Homo sapiens: one gene and its partners. Each later gene encodes a partner of the first gene's protein in a complex. Each region holds a gene or a part of one and is shown in the gene's direction. Other genes may lie near its edges. The genes, in order: MBTD1, EPC1, RUVBL1 and KAT5.

Region 1 (7,026 bases):
TCAAATTGGCTAGTTCATGTAACTCCTAGATATCTTTGCTCATCTTTGAGCTTTGAGGCTATTTTGGTTTTTCCTGATTTGTTCATACTATCAAGTCTTTTATAACCTCACATAATCCTTTTCTTTATGATCAACATTCTAAATTGAATGAGGAACTGACTGTCCAGAGCAACACAAACTGTTTAGTGTTATCAGCATTTATATTCTTAAATTTGCTTATTTGATTTAATTTACCATTGCATAAGTTCCAAGTAATTGTGAATTGCCTTGAGTTTTAAAGATTAAAATATAATGGAAACAATACTTTGGGAACATCTGTTAGATTTCAGAAAATCCCTTCATGATGCTCATTTAATTGATTTTCCGAGTCCCCATCTTAACCATTTGCTGTGGGAGGCTAGTGATTACCGGTTCTAACATTGGAAGTTTTCTCTTTATAGTAATTTCTACATGAGAAATTTTGAAATAATAATTTAAATAGTTTACCATGGTACTCATCTCCAAAACTCTTCAACTCCACCTTCTTAATAACTTTATCCAGTGCTTTTCCCTCACGTCCATCTATGTGGACTAGATTTCTAATCTATGAATTTAATTTAAATTGAAAATTTTCATTTCTCTTATTCATGTTGTTGGAAACCACACTGCTGATTGGAATTGTTTTTCTTTCTGCTCTTAGGCCAGATCTTTTAAAAGTAGAAATTAGGGTGAAGTGTATTCACTCAGTACATATTAAAAATTTCTTAAATCAGTTTAATCCTATTAAATCTGCTATTGAGTTTGTAATTCCACTCATAGAAAAATCGCTGCTTAAATCTCATATTAGGACAGTATCAGATTTTGAAGTCAGCATGAATCTAGTCTAATATATGTGAATTTTCTCTTTATCTTGTTTGTCCCTGAAACTGGCTTTTTCCAGATAGAATTCTAGGAAACAAACGGAATTAAAATGACATTTTTAGTTTAATATTCCTATTATTGATGGTACTGCTTAATTTTCATTGATATGTTTTAGGCTTTATGTTAATAAGACAATAATTTAATGATTTTTATGTGACAGGCACCTATGGGGACCTGCTGGGGTGATATCTCAGAAAATGTGAGAGTAGAAGTTCCCAATACAGACTGCAGCCTACCTACCAAAGTCTTCTGGATTGCTGGAATTGTAAAATTAGCAGGTGAAAAGCATGAATAATAGTTTAGTAGAAAATGCAGAGATCCTTGTAACCTTTCGTAAAAAAAGCATGTTTATAAATTTTGCAAGTATTGCCAAATAAAAAATATGTTATGATATAGGGCAGGGGTTGGCAAATTGTTTTCTGTGAAAAGCCAAACAAATATTTTCAACTTTGCAGGCCATATGATCTCTGTCACAGCTATCCGTCTCTATCATTATAGCATGAAAGCACCCTTAGCAATACATAAACAAATGGACATGATTGTGTTCCAGTAGAACTTTATTTACAGGAAATTTGAATTTCATATAATAGTTATGTATCATGAAATATCCTTTTTTTCTTTTCAACCATTAAAAATGTAAAAGTAATTCTTAGATCACAGCCATAAAAATAATCCAGCAATAGACCAGATATATAGGCCATAATGTATATGTTACTTTGAAAAGTAACAAAAGTTGAGGTACTAAAAAAAGTGGTAAGAGCTGGCCACAGTGACTCATGCCTGTAATCCCAGCTTTTAGGGAGGCAGAGGCGGGAGGTTAGCTTGAGCCTAGGAGTTCAAGACCCACCTGGGCAAAATAGCGAGACCCATTCTCCATTTTAAAAAAATAAAAATAAAGTGGTAAGAACCTTAATACCAAATTGATACAAGTGTTGATAATTTTATATATCTTGGGTTCTTCCGTTCTGTTTATTCCCACTGCCTCCACCATACCAAGCCCTTTACTGCTCATGAAGTAAACATGTTAGGAATCTACTATGGTAGACAATGTGGACAAAAGATGATATCCAGAAGTATAAGACTTGTATTTTTTCCAGCATGTTCACATCGGCCAAATGTTGACTACTACCAGGTATTAATATGACAAGATACTCAGTGAGTAGTGTAGTAGGGCATTGTGGAGGAGAGGCAGGCAGCCACTCATAAGAAAAGTTATCTTCAATTACTACTGTGACAGATTTTTAACTCCTCCCACTCTCTCTAGTTTTATTTCCGGCATTCTCCTCAAAACACACTGTAGACTGCTCTGTTGTGTACTGCTAATTGACTTAATTTACCTAAAAATTATTTTAATTTTATTTTTCTGTTCAAGCATCTTTTATGGCCTCTTTGTACTTAAAGGATCAAGATAGCCAGCATTTATGACTATTGATGAGTTGCACCATATACCACATGCCAGATGTATTGTAGTTCTCCAGCATAAATGATCTGTTGTGATGAGGCCAGTCTCCCTCTCCCTTTCATACAGCACGTTTTTGTCACCTCTGTGCCTTGGGTTACTCTTGCAAGAGTGTCCCATCTCTGTACTGAACTGTACTACTACCCAAGTCAATTCCCCATCTTTTTCTTGAAACATTTTCCCAGCTGTATAAGCATTCACTAAATGCTTGTATTATTCTCTACACTGTAATTTAAAACAACAGCATATTATTTTTGCCCTGGGTGTTTAAGTTAGTTACATTTAAATAGCTCTTAAGATCAGTGCATTTACTATCCAAAAATTACTTCTGCCTTCCATCTCCGATTTTACATTTCTGTTTTATCTAACTGCATCATGTATCTTCTTTTAAGCCACTTTAATGCCATTGTAGAAGTGAGCCTAATGTTAACCAGAAGCTAGAGTTCAGCAGTAATTAGCAAACTCATAAATTGTTCTGAGAAATTATTGAATTTTAAAACTGAACATTTAAGGCTATAAATTTTCACAAACATGAAAATGCTGACTAAACTTGTCTCCTAACCTGAAATACACATATATTGGCCTTTTTCTGTTTCATTAAAGGCCTTAAATTAAATCGTAATCTTTTATCAACATAAAGTTTATAGAATTATAAATAGGATATATTACATATTTTTTGTACTTTCCAAGAGTAAGCCTTCCTATTTGCCTAAGACATAGTTTTTAACTCATTTTACATAATTTTCTTTGTGTTTATTGAACTTTTTACCTGGCATATTCAAATCTTATTTCCAAATACATACGACAGAAAAATTTAGATTCTTAAAGTAGCCACATTCAAATTACCCAGGAGTAATTGGCCACCTAAGCAGCTGGATAAAGCAATTTCTTTGAAATACATTTCAAGGCCAAGCACAGTGGCTCATGCCTGTAATCCCAGCCCTTTGGGAGGCCAAGGCGGGCAGATCACCTGAGGTTGAGAGTTCGAGACTAGCCTGGCCAACATGGTGAAACCCCATCTCTACAAAATACAAAAATTAGCTGGGCATGGTGGCGCACGCCTGTAATCCCAGCTACTCAAGAGGCTGAGGCAGGTGAATCACTTGAACCCAGGAGGCAGAGGTTGCAGTGAGCCAAGATCACACCACTGCACTCCAGCCTGGGCGATAGAGCAAGACCCTGTCTTCATAAAATATATATATATATATAATTATATATAATATAAATAAATATATAATATGTATTTTTATATGTTTATATGCTTATACATAAATATGTATGTTATATGTATAATTACATATATATGCCTATAATCCCAGCTACTTAGGAGGCTGAGGTAGGAGAATCGCTTGAACCCAGGAGGCCAAGGTTGTAGTAAGGCAAGATTGCACCACTGCACTCCAGCCTAGGCAACAGAGCAAGACTCCATCTCAAAAAAGAAAAGAAAAAGAAATTATGGGTACAATTGAAATACATGTAAGGATGCCATGCTCTGAAAACAGTTGAACTGTTTGCACTGAACAGATGGTTCTCAAAGTTTGGTTCATAGACCAGCAGCAACAGCATCACCTGAGGACTTGTTAAAAAGGCATATTCTCAGTTCCCACCCAAGATCTACAAAATCAGAATCTCTGGAGTGAGACCCAGCCATCTGTCTGTTAACAAACCCTGCAGGTGATTGTATTGCAGATAGACACTAGTTTGACAACTGCTATCAGATGCTGTATTGTTTTATTTAATTTTATTTTCTTATTATGTAGTGATTTATTTCTGGGTTTCAGGTTACAATGCCCTTTTAAGATATGAAGGATTTGAAAATGACTCTGGTCTGGACTTCTGGTGCAATATATGTGGTTCTGATATCCATCCAGTTGGTTGGTGTGCAGCCAGCGGAAAACCTCTTGTTCCTCCTAGAAGTAAGTAGTTTATTTACCCTTACCGTAATTTTTTTATATGTGTACTTTAATGCTATTTTACACATAGTAATGTTAGAGTAATATGGAAATTAAAGGCCGGGCATGGCCGCTCACACCTGTAATCCCAGCACTTTGGGAGGCCAAGGCAGTCGGATCACTTGAGGTCAGGAGTTTGAGACCAGCCTGACCAACATGGCAAAACCCCATCTCAACTTCTCCCTAGCTGGGCATGGTGGTGCATGCCTGTACTCAGGAGGCTGAGGCAGAAGAATCGCTTGAACCGGGGAGATGGAGGTTGCAGTGAGCCAAGATCACGCCACTGCACTCCAGCCTGGGCAACAGAGCGAGACTCCATCTCAAAAAAAAAGAAAGAAATTAAAATAGTTTTTTTGGTGTTAAGCAGCTTTTTGCTGGCAAGGCATATACTTGCTTTCTCTATATTTGTTACTTTTCAGAATGTTAATAGCCTGACTTTGCAAGGAAATTTGTTACTTTTTTAACAAATAATTTATGAAGCAGTTCTTTTTTGCTAAAGTATAACTGATTATTTCTTCTATTTTAGCTATTCAGCATAAATATACAAACTGGAAAGCTTTTCTAGTGAAACGACTTACTGGTGCCAAAACACTGCCTCCTGATTTCTCCCAAAAGGTAAAAAACAGGATCTTATAAAGACTGAAGAGCTCTAAAAAACAAGGGTAACAGAGAACATTTTTAAGGAATTGGTTTAATTTTGTGAACCAGATGATCTGTGTTACATTTCAAGTGCATTCAGTATTTTTTACAGTATAATACAAAAATTTCTTGTAGACCTTTGTCATGAATTTCGAGCAGTTTTTTTTGTATGCTTTTAAGGTTTCAGAGAGTATGCAGTATCCTTTCAAACCTTGCATGAGAGTAGAAGTGGTTGACAAGAGGCATTTGTGTCGAACACGAGTAGCAGTGGTGGAAAGTGTAATTGGAGGAAGATTAAGACTAGTGTATGAAGAAAGCGAAGATAGAACAGATGACTTCTGGTGCCATATGCACAGCCCATTAATACATCATATTGGTTGGTCTCGAAGCATAGGTCATCGATTCAAAAGATCTGGTAAGCACCTATCACAAGAACTCCTGTCAAAAGCATCATTGAGGCTGATTATACTAGTTGGTTATTTTTCTCTGCAGAATTGCATAGATGAAAAATAGCATTCTAGTTGTTTGGGCTGCTTCTTCTACCTTAATTAGTGAAGGTTCACACCATATTAGTGTCCTAATAAATTTTTTTATATTCCTTCCACTTGTTCTCCAAAAGAAGGAACTTCTTCTGGTCACAACTATAATTGTTTCTTTCTTTTATTATTCAGCCCATTTGAAAGATCTAAAGATACCTTTCCCTTTCCATTCAATTTTAATCAAAATAGCAAGATTAAATGTGGTTAGACTTAATACTAAGCACATGAAAACATGCTTCTAAAGTTGTAATTTTCTAACTAGGGAATTACATTAAAATTATGAGCATTAAAATTGGCTGAATGTATTTAAAAGCATATATGCACATGTACTCTGAAGAGAGAAAAGACTATTAAAGAATATTCACCCCAAATGTAGAAGGCATGTCTTCTTGCCATGTTTTATAGTATGACATACTTTGTGAGTTTGAAGCCTTCAAAGAACGTGGTTTTTGGTCTTCTCACAAATGCTGACAGATTAGTGTGTAACTTTTCCTTGTAGATATTACAAAGAAACAGGATGGACATTTTGATACACCACCACATTTATTTGCTAAGGTAAGAAGTTTTTATAAGAACCCTCATTTGTAAATTAGGTTTGAAAGAGGGTTGTGGGTTTTTTCCTAAAATTACGGAAATCACAATTACATATGTTCACTTAAAAGAATTAAGACCTTGTAAATTCATAGGTGTCACAACTCTTTATTATAATTATTCTTAAATTCTATTTGTCTGAATTCTCTCTAAACCTTAATGGAAGTTTGAGTTATAATATTAGGTAGGTAGGAGAAGGCACCTGGTAAATCTTTTCACATTGGTAATATTTTAATTATCAAAATAACAACATTTGTAACAGTAGATGTGCTTTCATATAATTCTTTAGGTAAAAGAAGTAGACCAGAGTGGGGAATGGTTCAAGGAAGGAATGAAATTGGAAGCTATAGACCCATTAAATCTTTCTACAATATGTGTCGCAACCATTAGAAAGGTAAGATAATAGGTTTTAAAATATAGAAATGCAATTATAGGATTTGGGTATAAGCTAATAGAAGGAGTCCCCAAGCATATTCGTTTTGACATAAAATGTGTATGTGTATATCTTCACTGGGGAGAAGGTTGCTAGGAATTTCAAAATAAATTTGAATCCTCTGATCTTACATAGTTTATTGTCAAGATTGTCATTTTGAGTCTGCTACACTTATTTATGGAAGTATATCCTAATTTAGAGGAAAAATATTTATTTAAGTTACTTCTAGACAAGGCTAGTCCAATTCAGAATTGTAACAAGGCCAAGTTTATCTTCAGTTTCCTGTGTTTCCTCTTTAGGCCTTTTTCTTCCTTTTGGTAGTAGTTTTTGCTGCTTTTCTCTTTTCCCCCTCATCTGAAACTGCTCTTACAAAAAGACCTAGAAGAGAAATTCTTGGGTTTTTTGTTTGTTTGTTCATTTTTTTTTGAGACAGTCTCTCTCTGTCGCCTAGGTTGGAGTGCAGTAGTGTGATCACAGGCTCAAGTGACCCTCCCACTTCAGCCTTCAGAGTGG
Region 2 (7,026 bases), on another chromosome or scaffold:
AGAAGGCATGCCTCTCCCTAAAGAGATCACACACATTCTAATAGGGAGGCATGCTTAACAAGCAGATTATAAAGTATGTGAAGTGGGTTCTTAGCCACTAAAAAAGATGAAAGTGGTTAGGAACCACTTCTTGGGTGGGGAAAAATCAAAAAAGGATTCTAGATGAGTGATACCAGGCTGGGTGCTAAAAAGAATAAATAGGCATTTGCCTCCTTGGTGGGCAAGCAGAAAAACAGGGATTTTTGTAAAGGCCTGCAGTCATGAAATAGCATACTGCATGAAATCAATGAAATCTGATGTTACTAGATCATAAAGAACTGATAACACTGGAGAGAATAGGAAAAAAGGGCCTTATACCATTCTAAAGATGTGGACTGTAATGTTAGTAGAAGGAATTAAGTAAGGGAAAGATGTGAGACAAATTTTTATATTAAAGCTATTTAATATTTTGCTTATATTCATATCAACCTAGCTTAATTTTGGTAAGTAATTAAACAACATTTGATAGTAGCAGCGGTTCTTGCAGATCTAAGATCCTCCCATTTCCATCAGCATGACAGTGTTCGCGTAGAGAAACAAACTTCCTAGGCAGGAACATACTCACCGAGTGACAGCTGCTGAAAACTCAAAATCTGAAATGCTCCGCAGTTCGAAATTTTTGAGCACCAATGTGATTCCACGTGTGGAAAATTATACACCTGCCCTCATGTGATGATGGGTCACAGTCAAAACTTCACGCACAAAATTATTTAAAATATTACATAAAATCACCATCAGGCTATGCATATAAAGTATATGTGAAAAAAATGAATTTTGTGTTTAGACTTGGGTCCCACCCTCAAGAAATCTCATTATACGTATTCAAATATTCCAAAATCCAAAACACTTCTGGTCCCAAGCATTTTGGGTGAGGGATTCTCAACCTGTACTGTTATTGGTAGTGGCTTCTAACACTTCAACTTTAAAGACCACTCCCTTAGCTTTTGGTAAAGTAGTTGAATAATCTACAAAATAGGACTTAAATATTATAGAAAAAAATCTTAAAGGCCTTCTCCTTTTATATTATAAAAATTGCCTATGTGATGATTTTTGAGCTATAAAAATGGCACTTCACATGGTTCAACCAAATAAGTTTTAATGATCGCTTTATGTTCTTAATAGGCTTCTAGTGTATTTGCTTTTAGGAGTGGTTGGAGGGTGTCGCATCCATTGTCTTTTATTACTTATATGTATATTCATAGTAAAGATAATCTCCTTTCTTTAACTTTAAATGTGTAAGACAAATCTAAGCTTAGATTGTTTGCGACTCTGAAAACAAAATCCAAGAATTCTTTCTTATTTCTTTAGAAAGTCTAGGTCTTGTTTTTATGCAGACATCTGTGGAGTTTTTGTCGGTGAATTCACACAGTAAATGATTGCATATGGTTCCTTCTGTCAGCTTTTAGTTTGGATGCTGAACAGCCTGATTATGATTTGGATTCTGAAGATGAAGTATTTGTGAATAAACTGAAAAAGAAAATGGACATCTGCCCATTGCAATTTGAGGAGATGATTGACCGCCTAGAAAAAGGCAGTGGTCAGCAGGTACAACTTCATTTGTATATAACAAGTATATACATATTCTATGTAAAGAACTGTATTGTATGGAAAGAGTGTGAGATTGCAGGTTGGGGGTAATCAGTCAGGCTTTAGAGTTAAAAAGTATGAATTCAAATCTCATCTCTGCTTATCAGTAACCTGTGTAATCTTGAGCAATATGTTTAAATTTTTCTGTGCCTTGGTTGCCCTGGGATTGTCGTAAAGATGAAATAATGTATATAAAGCACCCTAGTTCAGTGACTGACAGGCATAATGTACTCCTCAAGTTTCCCATTTGTTAATAATGTTGTAATATTGATTATTGTCCTTTAAATTTAGAAGTAAATACTTATGAACCTTGTATGTGTATTGTATGAAAATGACATAATGGTTTTACATTTAGCCAGTCAGTCTGCAGGAAGCCAAACTACTGCTAAAAGAAGATGATGAACTAATTAGAGAAGTTTATGAATATTGGATTAAAAAGAGAAAAAACTGTCGAGGGCCATCTCTTATTCCATCAGTAAAACAAGAGAAGCGAGATGGTTCCAGCACAAATGATCCTTATGTGGCTTTTAGAAGGCGTACTGAAAAAATGCAGACTCGAAAAGTAAGTGAATTTGAAGAATTTTTTTGATAATTATATAATAAAAATTATTTATAGTTATGACTGTCTCAATACTGTGGTTTAATTTATATTCAAATATGACTTTCCAATTATAAGAAAAATACTTAAATTGAACTTAAGATTTATTATGCAGCTATTAATGTTATATTTTAATGTTAATCCATTTAAAAATCAATACAAAATTGATTTCCTGGTGATCTGTGCTCCCTTTTATTGTCTTTAAATTCTAATTTAACCCTTCAAATATATAAATTTTATGGGTCAATAACTATACCACTAGTTAGAAATACTTACTAACATTAAACAAGCAACTTCACATTTGCAGAATCGCAAAAATGATGAAGCCTCTTACGAAAAAATGCTTAAGCTGCGACGAGATCTAAGTCGAGCTGTTACTATTCTAGAGATGATAAAAAGAAGAGAAAAAAGTAAAAGAGAGCTATTGCACTTAACACTGGAAATTATGGAAAAGAGGTAATGTATATTTTAATAATGTTAGAGGAAGTATAGTGCCATTAACATTTTGTATATTGAGTTAATTTATTTCCTATGCAATAATCTAATTACAGAAATATCTTTTTTTAATAATAGAGACTTTAAATATGTGGTATGATACTTTTTATACTTTTACATGTTTTCCTCTATTTTCTTTAAAAGTGACTGGATTCACTTAAGTTAAAACATACCAAGTATTTCCATTTCAAAGTGGTCTTTTTTGGTCCTTGAGTTGCATGTAGGACTTGAGTTAATTGATAGTACTGCTTCTTTTTTAATGCATATAAAATTTAAAACACTGGATTGTTAAATAGAAAAGGGTAAAGAAAGAGGGAGAAAGGCCCATATATCTTACCACTCAAGCATTTGGCAAGGTACACAATGAAAACTTAAAGAAAACTTCTGCCCTATTTCTAGTCCCTATCCCCAAAGAAAACCACTTTTAAATTTCTTGTGATTACTTTTAGAAAAATTAGTTTTAAAGCCCAGGCAATTCTAATTAGCAGAAAGATCCTTAGCACCATTTTAGGCATTACTTTCAACTTCACCAAATCTTTCACCAAAATTGCTACATTAAAATTCCAGCTTTTGATTTTTTCCCAACAATCCTCTATTTATATGCCATGATAAAGCTATAAGCCAAAAAAGTAAAAGGAAGAAACAAAAGGAATTATGTAATCTTTGAGAGAAATTGAATAGTCAAAGTTTAACTACAATCTTGCCTTAAATGTAATTGGTGTTTATAATTATATCTCAGTCAGCTAGTTATTAATGGTTATAAAGATAAATACTTATAAAACTAACTTTCCAAAATTTTCTTCTTTTTCCTGCTTTATTTAGGTATAATTGACAAATAAAAATTATATATTTTATATGTTGGTCAAAGGGTACAGACTTACAGTTATGAAATGAATACATTCTGGAGACCTAATGTACAGCATGGTTAATAACAATGTATTATATACTTGAAATTTGCTAAGAGTAGATCTTAAGTAATCTCACCACATATACACACAAGGTAATTATGTGAGGTGATGGATATGTTAATTAGCTTGATTGTGGTAATTATTTCACAGTATAAATGTATATCAAAACATCACATTGTATTCCTTAAATATATATAATTTTAAACTTTCATTTGTATAATTTTAGGTATAATTTGGGCGACTACAATGGAGAGATCATGTCTGAGGTTATGGCACAGAGACAGCCAATGAAACCTACTTATGCCATCCCCATCATCCCTATTACTAATAGCAGTCAATTTAAACACCAGGAAGCAATGGATGTGAAGGAGTTCAAAGTTAATAAGGTGATTAATGTTTTTGTGATAATAGTATCTAATAATGGGATGGTATTTTATCATTAGAATGAAAGTTAAAAAGAAAAACACACATAGGCCGGGCACAGTGGCTCACGCCTGTAATCCCAGCACTTCGGGACACGGAGGTGGGTAGATCACCTGAGGTCAGGAGTTCGGGACCAGCCTGACCAACATGGTGAAACCCCGTCTCTACTAAAAATACAAAAAAATTAGCCAGGTATGGTGGCATGCGCCTGCAATCCCAGCTACTAGGGAGGCTGAGACAGGAGAATTAATTGAATCCAGGAGGTGGAGGTTGCAGTGAGCCAAGATCACACCATTGCACTCCAGCCTGGGTGACACAGCAAGACTCCATCTAAAAAAAAAAAGATAAAAAAAGAAAAATACATATATACCCCACCTTAATGTATACTGCAATGATTGTGCCACAATATGAAGAAAAGCAGAAGTCTATAATTAAAATTTTATTTTTGTTTCTCTTCCTTATAAAGGGAAGCTTTTGTTACTATATCTGATAAAAGGAAAAATATTCCTTTTACAAGTTGTAGGATTATGAAGTATTGAAATAATTCATACAAAATATGGAGAGTTAGGGAGAAAGACATGAAATCCTCCCTGATCAGATGAGTTTTTCTTTCTTTCTTTTTTTTTTTTTTTTTTTTTTTTTGACAGAGTCTTGCTCTGTCACCCGGGCTGGAGTGCAGTGGCCGGATCTCAGCACACTGCAACCTCCACCTCCCGAGTTTAAGCGATTCTCCTGCCTCGCCTCCCCGAGTAGCTGGGACTACAGGTAGCACGCGCCACCATGCTGGGCTAATTTTTGTATTTTTAGTAGAGGTGGGGTTTTGCCATGTTGGCCAGGCTGGTCTCAAAACCCCTGACCTCAGGTGATCCGCCCGTCTAGGCCTCCCAAAGTGCTGGGATTATAGGCGTGAGCCACTGCACCCAGCCTCAAATGAGTTTTTCTGTCTTTTGTGGACACAATAGTGTATAAGAGGGAATTTTGATATCTTAATAGTAATATAATGATTTAGAAATGGAAATATTTGACAAATTAGTACTTAACTAAGTCACAATTTGTGAAGAATAAAATTTGTGAGAGGAAATAAAATTAGTGAAGGAAAACTGAGGTAAATAAAGGAGAGCCATTAATTAAGTGGCACTTTCTTGGAAAGTGTACATCTGAGGAAAAAGTACGTTATGCATTTTTTGTATGAAATTTTTCATGGCCGGGCACGGTGGTTCATGCCTGTAATCCTAGCTCTCTGGGAAGCCGAGGCAGGCGGATCACAAGGTCAGGAGATCGAGACCATCCTGGCTAACACGGTGAAACCCTGTTTCTACTAAAAATACAAAAAAAATAGCCGGGCGTGCTGGTGGGCGCCTGTAGTCCCAGCTGCTTCAGAGGCTGAGGCAGGAGAATGGCGTGAACCTGGGAGGCAGAGCTTGCAGTGAGCCGAGATCGCGCCACTGCACTCCAGCTTGGGCTACAGTGCGAGACTCCGTCTAAAAAAAAAAAAAAAATTTCATGAAACTTTGCATCTACCATACCAGTTTAATTTGAGGAATGGGAAAATTTGCCATCAGTTTTATCTCCCCTGCATCATTTAATATCATGCTCACTCAGGTTTTTTTTTTATTGTGGTAAACAGACCTTCAAGCCTGAATGTACAACCTGCCACACAGTTAGAATGAATGATGATTTCCCCAGCCTGGACTTTTTTTGCAGGGGGAGGCGGGGAGTTATTTAAAGCAGTGCCAGGGACCAGACCATTTTGTGAAAAAACATGGACTTTTTTTTTTCCCACTTTGTTAACATGGACATTTTGATTTTTAAAAAACGTAGGGGAGGGTGGGAGGGAGAGTAGAGTTATTCTCGTTATTCTCTTCAATGATCTGGAAAGTTAGAGCTGTGCCCCAAAATACTGTTTTAGTTTACTCATGTAAGTTTTTATTTAAATTTTGCATTTATTTAAATTTTATGTCCTGCATTTGTAATATATTAGTTCTAAATGTATCTTTAAAGTTTAATGGGATTGTTCCCACTGTTACTTTTTTTTTTAAGGCAGAGTCTTGCTCTGTCACCCAGGCTGGAGTGCAGTGGCGCAATCTTGGCTCACTGCAACCTCCGCCTCCTGGGTTCAAGCGATTCTCCTGCCTCAGCCTCCCAAATAGCTGGGACTACAGGCGCATGCCACCACGCCTGGCTAATTTTTTGTATTTTTAGTAGAGACAGGGTTTCATCGTGTTAGCCAGGATGGTCTCAATCTCCTGACCTCATGATCCTCCCGCCTTGGCCTCCCAAAGTGCTGGGATTACAGGCATGAGCCACCCCACCCGACCTCCCACTCTTAACTATTTTAATGTGGTCCCCCCCTCTGAGCCCTACATGATTTTGTGGACTACTTTAGTGTTATCCTTCAGTTATCATATTTTAAGATTAATTATCCTATTATTTGCTTTCCTCTATATGTGCCACTCATACTTGAAAGTTACTTTAGGCCGGGTGCAGCAGCTCATGCCTATAATCCCAACACTTTGGGAGGTAGAGGCAGGCAGGTCACTTGAGGTCAAGAGTTTGAAACCAGCCTGGCCAACATGGCGAAACCCCATCTCTACTAAAAATACAAAAAATTAGCGAGCGCAAATTGCTGTAAATGGGTAGTAATAGCACCTAAGCATAGCATAAGGCTTTGAATTAGTAGGTACTTGGGAGGCTGAGGCAGGAGAATCACTTGAACCTGGGAGGCGGAGATTGCAGTGTGCTGATACCGCACCACTGTACTCCAGCCTAAGTGACAGAGCAAGACTCCATCTCAAAAAAAAAAAAAAAAAAAAGAAAAAAGTAATAGATAATAATGTAGTCCTCAAGCACTGCCCTAGCTGACAGCTGATGTTAGCTTTTAAATAATGTTTTGCATTGCCATGGCCAACTTTTGATTTGATTATCCTGTCAAATACAACAGTAGAAATTGTGGAGAGATGCCTTATGGTTTGGGAA
Region 3 (7,026 bases), on another chromosome or scaffold:
TGCCTGGCTTTTAGTGCTGAGGTTGAGGGTGTTTCGGTGATACAGGCTATAACATTACATGGCTGACTCCTTAGAGTTCTCAGGCCATTACCATATAGAACATGTAAATGTATCTGCAGGTTCGTTTCTTGGGTATTATTAGTAGATGATGTGCCTAATGACAACCCCTTCACTCTTAGTGACTTCATTCATTCATCCATTCACTCTACCTGCCTATGTGCTGTGCCCTCAGCTCAGGTGTGGGCAATCTGCAGAGGGGTAGGCAAGGTCTGCAAGTTATGGCATTGCCGTGGGCTGCTGCTGTGCCAGTGGAAACACAGGTCACCATGGGGACAATTTGGAGGATGAGGAAGAAGAATGTGTGAAGGGGGGGGGGATACGTTTTAAACTGAGTCTGCTAGGAGGAGTTGCCTAAGCTAAAAAGAGTGGTTCAGGAAGCAGAACCGTTATATGCAAAAGCATGTAATGAACATAGAGATCACGTTCTAAAAGTTAATTTAACAATGATTCTTGGATAATGAACAAACGTTTATTAAAGAGCTAATGTGGATGATGTTTAGAATTCAGAGAGAAATTTACCTTTATTTGCAATATTCTAATGTAAGGTGCTTTGGAAATTGGTTTTGTTGTTATGGCCTTAGAAAAACTGTAGAGCAGCTGGGAATGGTAGCTCACACCTGTAATCCCAGCACTTTGGGAGGCCAAGGTGGGTGGATCACCTGAGGTCAGGAGTTCAAGACCAGTCTGGCCAACATGGTGAAACCTATCTCTACTAAAAGTACAAAAAAACCCCAAAAATTAGCCAGATGTGGTGGTGCACGCCTGTAATCCCAGCTACTTGGGAGGCTGAGGCAGGAGAATCACTTGAACCTGGGAGGCGGAGCTTGCTGTGAGCCAAGTTCGCACCATTGCATTCCAGCCTGGGTGACAGAATGAGATTCTATCTCAAAAAAAAAAAAAAAAAAAAAAGAAAAAGGGAAAGAAAGAAAGAAAGAAAATTGTAGAGCAACACATTGCAAATAATGCATGACAACTGGGTATTTCTTCTTGGAGTATGCAGTGAGAGCCAGAGGCCCATAACACCTGGCAGTTTTGAGTGTCACCCACTGTTGACATAGATACCTAATTATTTTAGTATGTTCTGCTCAGGTTTCATAGTGTCAGAGGGTGTGTAATGAGTTATTCCACTGGTTTTAAGATTTCCTTTGAGAGTCAGAAATTCAGGAAACAAGGCTACAGGAGTTTTGATAGCCACTGTTCTGGTGGAATAGAATAGTGTGGGTTCAGAGACTGGATTAAAGGCTAAAGGTAAATTTCACCCCCTTGGAAATGAAGCAGACAATTTTAAGAATTATAACTTGTCTATCTAGTTCTGGATTTGAACCTAGAAAGTTCCCTTAAAAAGTTGCATTTCTAGGCCGGGTGTGGTGGCTCACACCTATAACCCAGCACTTTGGGAGGCCGAGGAGGGTAGATCATGAGGTCAGGAGATCAAGACCATCCTGGCTAACATGGTGAAACCCTGTCCCTACCAAAAATACAAAAAAATTAGCCGGGCGTGGTGGCGGGCGCCTGTAGTCCCAGCTACTCGGGAGGCTGGAGGCTGAGGCAGGAGAATGGAGTGAACCGGGGAGGCAGAGGTTGCAGTGAGTCGAGATCGTGCCACTGCACTCCAGCCTGGGCAACAGAGCGAGACTCTATCTCAAAAAAAAAAAAAAAAAAAGTTGCATTTCTAATAGTGCCTCTAATTTACATTGATATGTTTGTATTGCCTTTTTACCCATCATGACACCCTGGAATGTACATTATTAAGGTTGATTTGGCAGTTCTGGTGACATGGAAGTTTTGGGCTCTCAGTGTGAGAGAAAAGATTCTGCTTCTCACCATGGCCCCTCTGCCACCTCTTCCAGGGCTGCGAATAAAGGAGACCAAGGAAGTTTATGAAGGTGAAGTCACAGAGCTAACTCCGTGTGAGACAGAGAATCCCATGGGAGGATATGGCAAAACCATTAGCCATGTGATCATAGGACTCAAAACAGCCAAAGGAACCAAACAGTTGAAAGTGAGTACATGTATGTGGCCTCTTTTCCCTTGACTCTCCCAGCACTGTGTGGCTTTGGGCAGGTGGTGTAACCTCTCTGCATCCCAGTTTCCTGACCTGTGCACTGCAGGTATTGATTTCTCACAGAATTGGTTGAGGATATTGTGTGTATAAAGCGGTACCTAGCATAGGGCTTGCACATAGGAGGACTCAAGGAAGATAGCTCTTTTCTTACTTACTCCTAGGAAACTCTGCATGTTAAAATGTGAGCTGTGTGGTTAAGTCAAGAAACTGCCTCTGCCATCCCATGTCCCATATTATGACCATGCATCAAATACCCTGGGCTGGGTCTGAACCTGGGCATTAATTTTTCCAGTTATCAGTGCCCATGCTCATAGAAAGAAACAGCATTGAGTAATCAAATAAGAGTTGTATAAAGATGATGGATGGGCTTCCCAGGGGCCACATGCAGAATCCTGACTGCAGTTGCTTGTGTCAGGAACCTGTGGTCGCTTCAGTGGCTGGTTCTGTTTAGTACAGGGCTTTGTGGAGAGGCCAGAATGGTGACACTGGATAGCGCTCAAAGACAGTCCTCAGCCACCTGTCCTGTAAGTCTTTAGGATGGAGGCAGTAGAGTTTCTAGGGGAAGAGCATGAGTTTTGGAGTCTAAGTCCTTAAGGAATCCCTGGCTTTGTTACTTACAACTGTGTGGCATTAATCTCTGAGTAGTAGTTTCTTTATTTGTTGAATGGGAATAATAATTGCCTGTCTTTCAGGGTTATGGCTTTGGGTGTGGCACCTAGTTACCTAATGAATGATAGCTGTTAATGTTATCGTGAGAGCCTTCACTTGGAGAAATGGAGCAGTCTGGATTTTAGGCTTTGCCTTATTATTATTAATAAATATTATCATTATAGCTCTCATTTATTGTATGTGTCAGGCCTTGGACTAAGTGCTTCAACAAACATTTATTGTCATTCATAACTTTATATGTGTATATGTTTGCGTGTGTGTATGTGTGTATAGTTTTCCTCATGTTAACAGATGAAGGCTCATAAAGAGGTTACATGGTTATCCTGGGATCATCCAGCCAGTCATGTGGCAGAGCTGACCCTCTGAGTCCTAACCGTTGTACTGTCTGCCCACCAGCTTGCTGTGTGACCTTTGGAAGTCAGTTGAGCTCTCTGGGACTCAGTTTTCTCATCTATAAACTGCAGGAGATTGACCATATAATTTCTCCATTTTTATTCTGTTCTACGATTTTATGGTTCTTTGATTCTCTGAGGTTGTTTCTTGGTCACTGCTTTATGGAGATCATAAAAATGTCACTTCTTCAAAGGGCCATTTTTCTTTTTCCTAACAGGGTTTCCATCTCAGGAACTTGCCTCTGCAAATATCTCTTTTATACCTACCCCTCGTCACTTCCATTCTGAATTAATTAGATTTCTCAGTAGCATCTGCCACCTTTCCAGTAATTACATCTTCAGTCAATTCATTTGGGAAATTAACCGATATAAAAATGCTTGAGGCAAAAAAGAAGTATATTCTCCAATGTAGGACAGATAAAATAAGGCGTACAGTTTAAATTTCAGCTATTTGTAACACTGCTTTGTACAGTTTCTTTACAAAAATAATGTAGAGGAGAAGATGAAATTTTTCTTCCAAAATGAATACTTTTAGGTATTTTTAGAATATGTACAAGATATTTGGATAGAAGGTGCTCAAATACTTGGTGGATATTCAAGTCTGAAGGAGTCTTCTGAGTTCTAGCAACGAGAATGCCATTAGTACTCATGACCCCTTCCTGCCAGGCCTTACCTGGGGGCCTCACCCACTTTTGTCCTTAGGCGCACAGACTCACAGCAGTTCTGCCAGGGTCTGCCGTCCCCACCCAGCTAAGGAGAGGCAGAACCCTGGGTTTGCTGCTGTGGTGGTAGTTTTTTAAAAGCTTTATTCAGATAGCATTTTAAATAAAACTCACCCATTTTAAGTATACAATTCCAGGAATTTTAATTTATTTTCACAGTTGTACAATCACCACAATCTTAATTTCAGAACATTTTCATCGCCCCAAAAAGAATCCTCCTACTCATTTACAGTCATTCCCCATTCCAACTATAGCCCTCGGCAACTACTAATCTACTTTCGGTTGCCTTCTTTTGGACATTTCATATAAATGGAACATACAGTGTATGTCTTTTTTTGTATCTGGCTTCTTTCACCAAGTCCTGGGTTTTCACTTTTTAATTTTGTTTGGGCAAAGCCCAAGTTTTTTTTCCACCATAGCTACATTGTATAACATAGATCTCCATGAAGACCTCGAGAAACTTGTGTTTAACTATAGAATCCTTACAAAGGCAGCTGTCCTAGAATATTAATCACTGAGGGTCACCAGAATCTGGAGAAAAGCAACAGTTCCGCAAATCTGCTTATTTCCTTTCCTGGAGATATAAGCAGGCAGACCCAAGGGCACAAACACTGGGATGTGAGTCAAAAGGCTTGGGAAAGATTCTCATTTATGTTTTTCTTTGAATTACTGTATACATCTGTGATTGCACCTGGGTGCTGTTGTATAGATGAGGAAACTTAGAACTGAGAACCTTATCCAAAATCAAAGGCCCTGCAAGATGCCAGCTTTGAGATTGGTAAGCAGGTGCTGGCAGGTACTTCAGTTGTGGAAAGTTCCACCCCACCTGAGGTGAGGCAAATGAAGGAGTGAAGTAGGGATGATGATTTCAAGAGGGGTGATAGGGCCTGTGGTCCTGTGGACAGTGGGGGCTGGGCCCACCCGTCTCACGGCAGCCAGGACCATCCTTATAAAAGCGCTGCTGCCAGTTTACAGCCTTTGGAATCAAGGGAAAGAGGAGAGTACGTGTCCCCTGTGTCCCTCTCATGCTCGTTACATAGGGATGCAGGTATGCTGGCCCCCCTATTTTCTCCCTGGTGTGCTTAGTCCCCCAGCCAGTCTGTTGTGTGGTACTTATGCATTCACACTCCTGCAGGTCCCAGTATTCATGCAAACGCAAAACAGGCTTTCTCCATGCACCTGCTAGCTACCTCAGATCCCTTACGGAAAGGTACCTTACATGGTGTCAGAAGGAAATGGAATATGTATTACACTTCTGATTTACATTTTTTTTTTTAGCTGGACCCCAGCATTTTTGAAAGTTTGCAGAAAGAGCGAGTAGAAGCTGGAGATGTGATTTACATTGAAGCCAACAGTGGGGCCGTGAAGGTAATGCCTTCCTTGGGACACAGCATTGTCCCTGATTTGTTTGCCATGAGAAGACCTAAGTGACAAGGGAGTTGCTTTCTTCAGAGGGTGTGGGGTGTGTGGGGAGGGGCTGGTGTCTGTTATGAGGCTGATGGAAGGTCAACTAGTGGCCCTTTATGTATAATAAAGTTTGCCTTCCCTTTATCTTCATTCTTTAACCTTCTCGCGATTAAAACAGATAGTCTGTTAGAAAAAATACTAAAACCTGTTCAGAGGGGGAGGACAGGGTGAGAAACCAAAACAACTTTAGTCACTTTCAAATTGAAATGTGCAGTGTATTTAATCTTCCTTTTATCTCTTTGGTATTTTCTTCCCAAGATATATGCATGTGGGAAGGAACGCTGCATTCGTTGGCATTCTTTTCTATCTGATTTTCAGGGTCCTGTACAGTGTTCCTCACTGTTTAATGGATGGGCATAATACTTCATATCATACAATAAATCATCCACCTACAAAAGAGTCTGAGCAGCTCCTCTGCCTCCAGTTAATCTACTGGATTTGGCCTTTATCAGGAATTGCATACAGTTAAAAGAAAGAAGGGAAAAAGGATTTTGGGAGAAAGTATCAGGTGTTTTTCAACCCAGTTTTTGGAGCCCAGCGATGAGCAGATAGCTCCCTTCTCTTGGCAGCAGGGGAGTGGGGCATATTTGGAGTTTGTCAAGTAGGCTGTCAGGCCTGCAGTGGGAACTGAGACCTTTATCTCACTTAGCCCTGTGCCATTTGGGGACTTGGCAGTGAAAACTTACCAGGCACTCATGTTTCTCTCTTTTTGCAGAGGCAGGGCAGGTGTGATACCTATGCCACAGAATTCGACCTTGAAGCTGAAGAGTATGTCCCCTTGCCAAAAGGGGATGTGCACAAAAAGAAAGAAATCATCCAAGATGTGACCTTGCATGACTTGGATGTGGCTAATGCGCGGCCCCAGGTACTGCCTCGATGCCTGGGTGATCTGGCACATTAGCCCTTTTGTATGTGTGTGGAGATCTGGGAATGAATTGTCAGAGTCTTGCTGCCTTTCTTGAGGTAGACGGTCCTTTTCTATCTGTAATGTTCAGCAATTAACATCGACATGAGCTACGAGGGACTCCTTTGTTCCCATTCAAATGCTCTAGTCACAGATGATTTCATGTGTATTGTTTCTTATCCCAGCCAAGCCTCTGGCCCTGAGCTAGCCAGCTTCCTCCATGGCTTCACTCCAGCAGTGGGCTCACACCTGGGATTTTCTGGGTGTTAATGGCAGGAGGGCAGGAGTGTTCTATGAGCCCTTTACAGGATTTCAGAAAGCCTAACAAAGCTCTTTCTTTCCCCCTGCTTAGCAAAAGCCACAGTGTTTTAGCTTTGAGCTGGTACTGTTGTCTGCTTCTCATACAGATGGATACTTATGCCTTGGCTAGTAAAGTGCAGGAAAGGATGTTATCACTATATGACATTTCTAGGAAATAGTGAATAGTCACTATTAGGGAATAGTTTGTTTTCTGACTTGAAATTTGATCCGTGGGTGTTTTGTTCCTTGGAGCTTTGGTCAAGAGATTACTGAAGACTCATCTTGGACCAACAGGTCCCCTTGGTTGGTGAAATGGCCATCCCCAAACTGACCTCCTGGGAGCCCTTGACCTGAGAAGAGTGCTGGGCTGGGAGTCAGAAGTCAGGAACTGTGTTGCTCCATCACTGACCAGCTTGGTTAATTTGTCACTTTGGGTCTCTGGGTTTT
Region 4 (6,981 bases), on another chromosome or scaffold:
GGATATTTGAAAATCTTTAAGCACACTATTAGTGGTTAAGAAGACCTATTGATTTTTGGATGCCCATCATGTGCTGAATACCATGCCCGACCCCCAAGTGCATCATCTCTAGGTGTTACCATGATTGTCCCTATGATAAAGCAACCCATGTGTCTCCGTGAATTCTGCAAACTCTGCTGAAAATGGCAAAATGGAGTTGGGGTCCTCTGTGCTGGTGACATTTAGAATGGAAAGCAAGTGCTATTTTGAAGATGACTCAGTCTGAGGAGGCGCTAGTTTTCTCAAGCAAACACTTTTGTAACACCCTTCCAGCCAAAACTCTGAGCTAACGTAGAAGGGTGAGTCCTGTCTTTCTCTTTGCTATCCACTTTGCATGTGGCCCAGCAGGGATGGTGACATTGCTGAGGGTGGACAATCTATACCTGTCCTCTTCTCTCCCAAACTCCAAAAATGTAAGCGCCCTAAGGGCAAGAGGTCTTTATTTATTTTGAGACAGGGTCTGTCTGTCACTCAGGGTGGAGTGCAGTGGTCGGCTCACTGCAGCCTGGAACTCCTAGGCTCAAGCGATCCTCCCTCCTCTGCCTCCTGAGTAGCTGGGAACACAAGCGAGGGCCACCGCCACGCCTGGCTAATTAAAAAAAAAAAATTTTGTAGAGACAGAGTCTCGCTCTGTTGCCGAGGCTGGTCTGTAACTCCTGGGCTCAAGCGATCCTCCCACCTCAGCCTCCCAGTGTTTGGATCACAGCCGTGAGCCACTGGACCAAAAAAAAAAGAAACCTAATATACAAAACAATGGCAGGGTGCGGTGGCCCTAGCACTTTGGGAGGCTGAGGCAGGCGGATTGCAGGCAGGAGTTTGAGGCCAGCCTGAGCAACATCTTTTTCTTTTCTTTCTTTATTTTATTTTATTTATTTTTTGAGATGGAGTCTCTGTCTGTTGCCCAGGCTGGAGTGCACTGGCACAATCTTGGCTCACTGCAACCTCTGCCTCCTGGGTTCAAGCGATTCTCCCGCCTCAGCCTCCTGAATAGCTAGGACTACAGGCAGATGCCACCACGCCCAGCTAATTTTTGTATTTTTAGTAGAGATGTGGTTTCACTATATTGGCCAGGCTGGTCTCGAACTCCTGCCTTGACCTCCCAAAGTGCTGGGATTACAGGAGCGAGCCACTGCGCACGGCCTCTTTTTTTTCCTTCTGAGACACAGTCTTGTTCTGTTGCCCAGGCTGGAGTGCAGTGGCACGATCTTGGCTGACTGAGTAGCTGGGATTACAGGCGGATGCCACCGTGCCCAGCTAACTTTTGTATTTTTAGTAGAGACGGTGTTTTACCATGTTGGCCAGGCTGGTCTTGAACGCCTGACCTCAAGTTGTCCGCCTGCCTCGGTGTCAGAGTTGCATGAACCAGAGCAACTCTATCTTGAATAGAAGCTGGGTAAAATGAGGCCGAGACCTACTAGGCTGCATTCCCAGACGGTTAAGACATTCTAAGTCACAAGATAAGATAGGTCGGTACAAGATACAGGTCATAAAGACCTTGCTGATAAAACAGGTTGCAGTAAGAAAGCCAACTAAAACCCACCAAAACCAAGACGGCCACCAGAGTGACCTCTGGTTGTCCTCACTGCTGCACTCCTACCAGTGCCATGGCAACGGCAGGAAGTTACCGAATATGGTCTAAAAAGGGGAGGCATGAATAATCCGCCCCTTGCTTAGCAGATCATCAAGAAATAACCAGAAAAATGGGCAACCAGCATTGAGTTCCTTTACTTTCCTAACAAACTTGCTTTCACTTTATGGCCTCGCCCTCAATTCTTTTTTTTTTTTTTTGAGACGGAGTCTTGTTCTGTTCCCAGGCTGGAGTGCAGTGGCCTGATCTTGGCTCACTGCAACCTCCGCCTCCTGGGTTCAAGCAATTCTCCAGCCTCAGCCTCCCGAGTAGCTGGGATTACAGGCGCGCACCACCACGCCTGCCTAATTTTTGTATTTTTAGTAGAGATGGGGTTTCATCATGTTGGTCAGGCTGGTCTCGAACTCCTGACCTCAGGTTATCCACCTGCCTGGCCTCCCAAAGTGCTGGACTCGCCCTGAATTCTTTATTGCACGAGATCCAAGAACCCTCTCTTGGGGTCTGGATGGGGACCCCTTTCCTGTAACACTGGGATTATAGGCGTAAGCCACCATGTTCAGCCACCTTTGAGGCAGGAAAATAGGGTCTGGAGGCAGGGAACATATAAGGCTGATTCACACTTCAGTTATGACAGGAAATATCCTCTCCTTAGGGAGTACACCCTAAATGACTTTGTAACTTTACTTCATCCTCTTCATTTACATATGGCATATCCCAAATAACCAATGGAATCCTCCAAAGGGTATTTAAACTCCAACAAATTCTGTAACTGGGCCCTTGAGCACCTATGCTCAGCCGGCCCCAACACTGGAGTGTACTTTCATTTTCAATAAATCGTTCATTCCTTCCTTGCTTTGTGCATTTTGTCCAATTCTTTTTTTTTTTCTTTTTCTTTGAGACAGAGTCTTGCTCTGTCTGGAGTGCAGTGGCGCAATCTCGGCTCACTGCAAGCTCTGCCTCCCGGGTTCACGCCACTCTCCTGCCTCTGCCTCCCGAGTAGCTGGGACTACAGGCGCCTGCCACCACGCCCAGCTAATTTTTTGTATTTATTTTTAGTAGAGACAGGGTTTCACCGTGTTGGCCAGGATGGTCTCAATCTCCTGACCTCGTGATCCGCCCGCCTCGGCCTCCCAAAGTGCTGGGATTATAGGCGTGAGCCACCGCGCCCAGCCGTTTTGTCCCATTATTTTAGATGCCAAGAACCTGTACACCCTCCACCGGTGACACCTTCACAGTTTTGAGGAGTATTCATGGGGTATTTTGTAAAATGTTTCTCAATTGGGATTTGTCTGATGTTTTTCTCATGATTAGACTGGAGGCAGCTGGGATTACAGGTGTGAGCCACCATGCCCAGTCTCCAAACCCTGTTTACACAAAAATTTTAAAAAACTAGCCAGGCTTGGTGGTGCGCGCCTGTAGTCCCAGCTACTAGAGAGCCTGAGGTGGATCACTTGATCCCGGGAGGGGGAGGCTGCAGTGAGCGGAGATTGTGCCTCGCTGGCTGCACTCCAGCCCGGGCGAGAGAGCCAGACCTTGTCTCAAAAAAAAAAAAAAAAAAAAAAAAAGCCTAATATGGCTGAGGGCGGTGGCTCACGCCTGTAATCCCAGTACTTTGTGAGGCCGAGGCGGGCGGATCACGAGGTCAAGAGCTCTAGACCATCCTGGCCAACATGGTGAAACCCCGCCCGTACTAAAAATACAAAAATTAGTTGGGTACTCGGGAGGCTGAGGCAGGAGAATCGCTTGAACCCGGGAGGCGGGGGTTACAGGGAGCTGAGATCGCGCCACTGCACTCCAGCCTGGCGACAGAGCGAGACTCCGTCTCAAAAATAAATATATACAAATTAAAAAAGCCTAATATACAAAATAAAGCTAGGAATCTTCCCTGAGTCCTCTTGCCTACGGAATGAAGTCCACAGACTTGGGGGAGCGTTCGAACCCTTCTAAGGCCACTTCCTTTCTCCAGCCTCTCGCGCCCAGTTGACTCCCGGCAACACCTCCCGCCGCCACAAGGAGACGCCCGAGGACTTCCCTCCGACAAAGCCAAAAACGGTATTGCCACGTGACCCGCTCCGCATACACGTGACCAGCTTCGCACCCGGTGGGCGTCACGTGACGGACTCAGTAGACCGCCACTGGCTGTGCACGTTATGGGGTTTCCACCTAGGGCTCGGCCTGAGGCTTGTAACACTCCGTTTTCCCCCGAGTCACAGGGGCAGTCTTGCCCCTCGCAGCTGGGTCGCGGTGTCTCTCAAAGGTCCCCCTCTACAGGGGCTTCGTGAGGCCCGGGCCCACAGGGCGCTCGGTCCCGGAAGTGACGTCTCCCAGAGGGGCCGGAAGTGGCAGTGGAGGGAGGGAAGATGGCGGAGGTGGTGAGTCCGGTGCCCGGGGCGGGGCGGAGGGAGCCAGGGGAGGTGGGTAGAGCCCGAGGCCCCCCAGTAGCCGACCCTGGCGTCGCGCTGTCTCCCCAGGGGGAGATAATCGAGGGCTGCCGCCTACCCGTGCTGCGGCGGAACCAGGACAACGAAGATGAGTGGCGTGAGTGACGTTGGGGGGCGGGACTAAGGAACCTGAGGGCGAGGGGCGGGAGTCAACTGAAATCCCGGGATGGGGAGGGGCGTCTGGAATTATGGGGCGGGCGAGGCGCAGATACTTTGATGAAGGGGCGTGGCTCTTAGCTGCTCCGAGAGGTACAGGGCGGGGCCTGGAAAGGGGTGGCACTTGTGACTGAAGGAGGCTTAGGAGAGACCTAAGTGCTGGAGCTTAGGGATCCGGCCTGGGGGTGGAGTTCAGGTCGTGGAAGGGTGGAGTCTCATAGCCTGGCCTGTCTAAGGCCCCTGTCTATGCTATTCTCATAGCCCTGGCCGAGATCCTGAGCGTGAAGGACATCAGTGGCCGGAAGCTTTTCTACGTCCATTACATTGACTGTGAGTTCTGGGCCTGAGGTGGGGCATCAGGGTAGGGTTGGGGGACAGTCTTTGGCATTCTGTCCTGAGCCATCCCCACTGCTACAGTCAACAAACGTCTGGATGAATGGGTGACGCATGAGCGGCTGGACCTAAAGAAGATCCAGTTCCCCAAGAAAGAGGCCAAGACCCCCACTAAGAACGGACTTCCTGGGTCCCGTCCTGGCTCTCCAGAGAGAGAGGTGGTGAGTAGGTCCCCCACTTCACCTTTTCTCTCCTGCCTCCTATTTCTCTTGTCTGTTGGCATTAGGAGCTCCTGGATGGGCAGGAGGCGGCTCCCTCTCACCCTGACTTCATCTTGCAAAGGATGGGGGCCAAATTGCACATGTAGCTCCCAGAGTCCAGTAGCTAGTCCTGTGTCCTTCAGAAGGCGAGGGTGGGGTTTGATAATTTTGAGGTGAGGGACCCCTCTTCCCCTTCCCCATCCCACTGCCATCCCCGCCCCAAAGGAAGACCCTGGACCTATCTCTACAGCCGGCCTCGGCGCAGGCCAGCGGGAAGACCTTGCCAATCCCGGTCCAGATCACACTCCGCTTCAACCTGCCCAAGGAGCGGGAGGCCATTCCCGGTGGCGAGCCTGACCAGCCGCTCTCCTCCAGCTCCTGCCTGCAGCCCAACCACCGCTCAACGGTACCCTCAGCAATTCCAGGGACCTTGCTTTCTTCTCAGGTCCCACCTTCTCTACCTTCTGACCCACCTTTGTTGGTTTCTCTCTGCAGAAACGGAAGGTGGAGGTGGTTTCACCAGCAACTCCAGTGCCCAGCGAGACAGCCCCGGCCTCGGTTTTTCCCCAGGTGAGTTCCCCAAACCATCTCTTGTTCTCTTCCTCTCTTCTACTCTCTGGTGGCTTTTTTCAGGCTCATTTCACAGCCATCCCTTCTTTTCCTACTATCTCGGCAGAATGGAGCCGCCCGTAGGGCAGTGGCAGCCCAGCCAGGACGGAAGCGAAAATCGAATTGTTTGGGCACTGATGAGGTGGGTCTGGGGAGCAGCAGAAGGGAACTGGGTGAAAAGGAAGGGATGCAGGCAGGGTGGAGAGTTATTTAGTGATGAGTTTAAAAATAAAGAAGGGGTGGTGGGCAGAGCTAGTGTTGGTGGGATTAGGAGACAGGCAGAACATTGTTCAAATGAGTCATTGGGGCCGGGCACCATGGCTCATACCTGTAATCCCAGCACTTTGGGAGTCCAACCAAGGCTGGTGGATCACCTGAGGTCAGGAGTTTGAGACCAGCCTGGCCAACATGGTGAAACCTTGTTTCTACTAGAAATACAAAAATTAGCCAGGCGTGGTGGCGGGTGCCTGTAATCCAGCTCGGAAAGCTGAGGCAGGAGAACTGCTTGAACCCCGGAGGTGGAGATTGCAGTGAGCCAAGATCGCGCTACTGCCCTCCAGCCTGGGCGACAGACTGAGACTCCATCTAAAAAATGGGGTCATTGGGTGATCTTTTCCACATCATCGATCCTTTAGGGTTTCAGGTTTTTTATCTGGAAATTGGGGATCATGGTACCTCCCCCTTAGGGTTGCTGTTAGGCTTGAAGGAAACCTGTCAAAGGGCTGTGAGCTGTGGTGTCCTGCTGAGCTGTCTCTTACAACCTGGTATTTTCCACTGGCCCTGGGCAGGACTCCCAGGACAGCTCTGATGGAATACCGTCAGCACCACGCATGACTGGCAGCCTGGTGTCTGATCGAAGCCACGACGACATCGTCACCCGGATGAAGAACATTGAGTGCATTGAGCTGGGCCGGCACCGCCTCAAGCCGTGGTACTTCTCCCCGTACCCACAGGAACTCACCACATTGCCTGTCCTCTACCTGTGCGAGTTCTGCCTCAAGTACGGCCGTAGTCTCAAGTGTCTTCAGCGTCATTTGGTATGAGGGGTCCAGGGAGGCTGCCTTCCCAGCACCCTCCACGTTGCCCTTGTTCCTGATCCTCCTCTCTTCCCCAGACCAAGTGTGACCTACGACATCCTCCAGGCAATGAGATTTACCGCAAGGGCACCATCTCCTTCTTTGAGATTGATGGACGTAAGAACAAGGTTAGTGCTTGAGAGGCAGTGAGGCGCTGGGGTGAATCAAATGACAGCTTCTTCTTGCTCAGGTAAACACTGACCAGTCAAGCCAGCAGATCAGTCCAGCCCATTTTTATTGAGTTCCTGCTGTCTGGCAGGTGCTGGTAGCCAGGAATGAGACAGTCTCTGTTCTCTGACAGCTTAGTCCATGGGAGAGACAGTCATACCAATGACCTCTAGCTCCCAGTGTCCTAAGTGTCATGAAACAGAGGGTAGGTTAGCAGGACCCAAAGGAGGTGGTCAGCAGAGCTTCATAGAGGGTTACCTTTCAGCCTTGGTGGATGACAAAGTGGCTGAGGGGATTTCTTGCAGTGGTGT

What was found.
Region 2: MBTD1 (region 1) and EPC1 share a complex: the UniProt entries of both Homo sapiens proteins name them as parts of the nuA4 histone acetyltransferase complex.
Region 3: MBTD1 (region 1) and RUVBL1 share a complex: the UniProt entries of both Homo sapiens proteins name them as parts of the nuA4 histone acetyltransferase complex.
Region 4: MBTD1 (region 1) and KAT5 share a complex: the UniProt entries of both Homo sapiens proteins name them as parts of the nuA4 histone acetyltransferase complex.

What each region holds. Positions count from the first base shown.
Region 1 is NC_000017.11:51,201,040-51,208,065, reverse strand, and holds part of MBTD1 (MBT domain-containing protein 1), read left to right. Parts: intron 1-1,060; coding exon 1,061-1,178; intron 1,179-4,140; coding exon 4,141-4,275; intron 4,276-4,837; coding exon 4,838-4,926; intron 4,927-5,130; coding exon 5,131-5,365; intron 5,366-5,988; coding exon 5,989-6,044; intron 6,045-6,369; coding exon 6,370-6,474; intron 6,475-7,026. UniProt on the Homo sapiens protein: Chromatin reader component of the NuA4 histone acetyltransferase complex, a multiprotein complex involved in transcriptional activation of select genes principally by acetylation of nucleosomal histones H4 and H2A.
Region 2 is NC_000010.11:32,288,150-32,295,175, reverse strand, and holds part of EPC1 (enhancer of polycomb homolog 1), read left to right. Parts: intron 1-1,438; coding exon 1,439-1,584; intron 1,585-1,981; coding exon 1,982-2,188; intron 2,189-2,531; coding exon 2,532-2,680; intron 2,681-3,541; exon of another isoform or gene 3,542-3,719; intron 3,720-3,853; coding exon 3,854-4,013; intron 4,014-7,026. UniProt on the Homo sapiens protein: Component of the NuA4 histone acetyltransferase (HAT) complex, a multiprotein complex involved in transcriptional activation of select genes principally by acetylation of nucleosomal histones H4 and H2A.
Region 3 is NC_000003.12:128,099,809-128,106,834, reverse strand, and holds part of RUVBL1 (ruvB-like 1), read left to right. Parts: intron 1-1,910; coding exon 1,911-2,062; intron 2,063-5,186; coding exon 5,187-5,276; intron 5,277-6,090; coding exon 6,091-6,240; intron 6,241-7,026. UniProt on the Homo sapiens protein: Possesses single-stranded DNA-stimulated ATPase and ATP-dependent DNA helicase (3' to 5') activity; hexamerization is thought to be critical for ATP hydrolysis and adjacent subunits in the ring-like structure contribute to the ATPase activity.
Region 4 is NC_000011.10:65,708,281-65,715,261, forward strand, and holds the start of KAT5 (histone acetyltransferase KAT5), read left to right. Parts: upstream 1-3,971; 5' UTR 3,972-3,987; coding exon 3,988-4,165; intron 4,166-4,485; coding exon 4,486-4,554; intron 4,555-4,641; coding exon 4,642-4,778; intron 4,779-5,040; coding exon of another isoform or gene 5,041-5,067; coding exon 5,068-5,223; intron 5,224-5,312; coding exon 5,313-5,387; intron 5,388-5,493; coding exon 5,494-5,568; intron 5,569-6,214; coding exon 6,215-6,463; intron 6,464-6,540; coding exon 6,541-6,630; intron 6,631-6,981. UniProt on the Homo sapiens protein: Catalytic subunit of the NuA4 histone acetyltransferase complex, a multiprotein complex involved in transcriptional activation of select genes principally by acetylation of nucleosomal histones H2A and H4.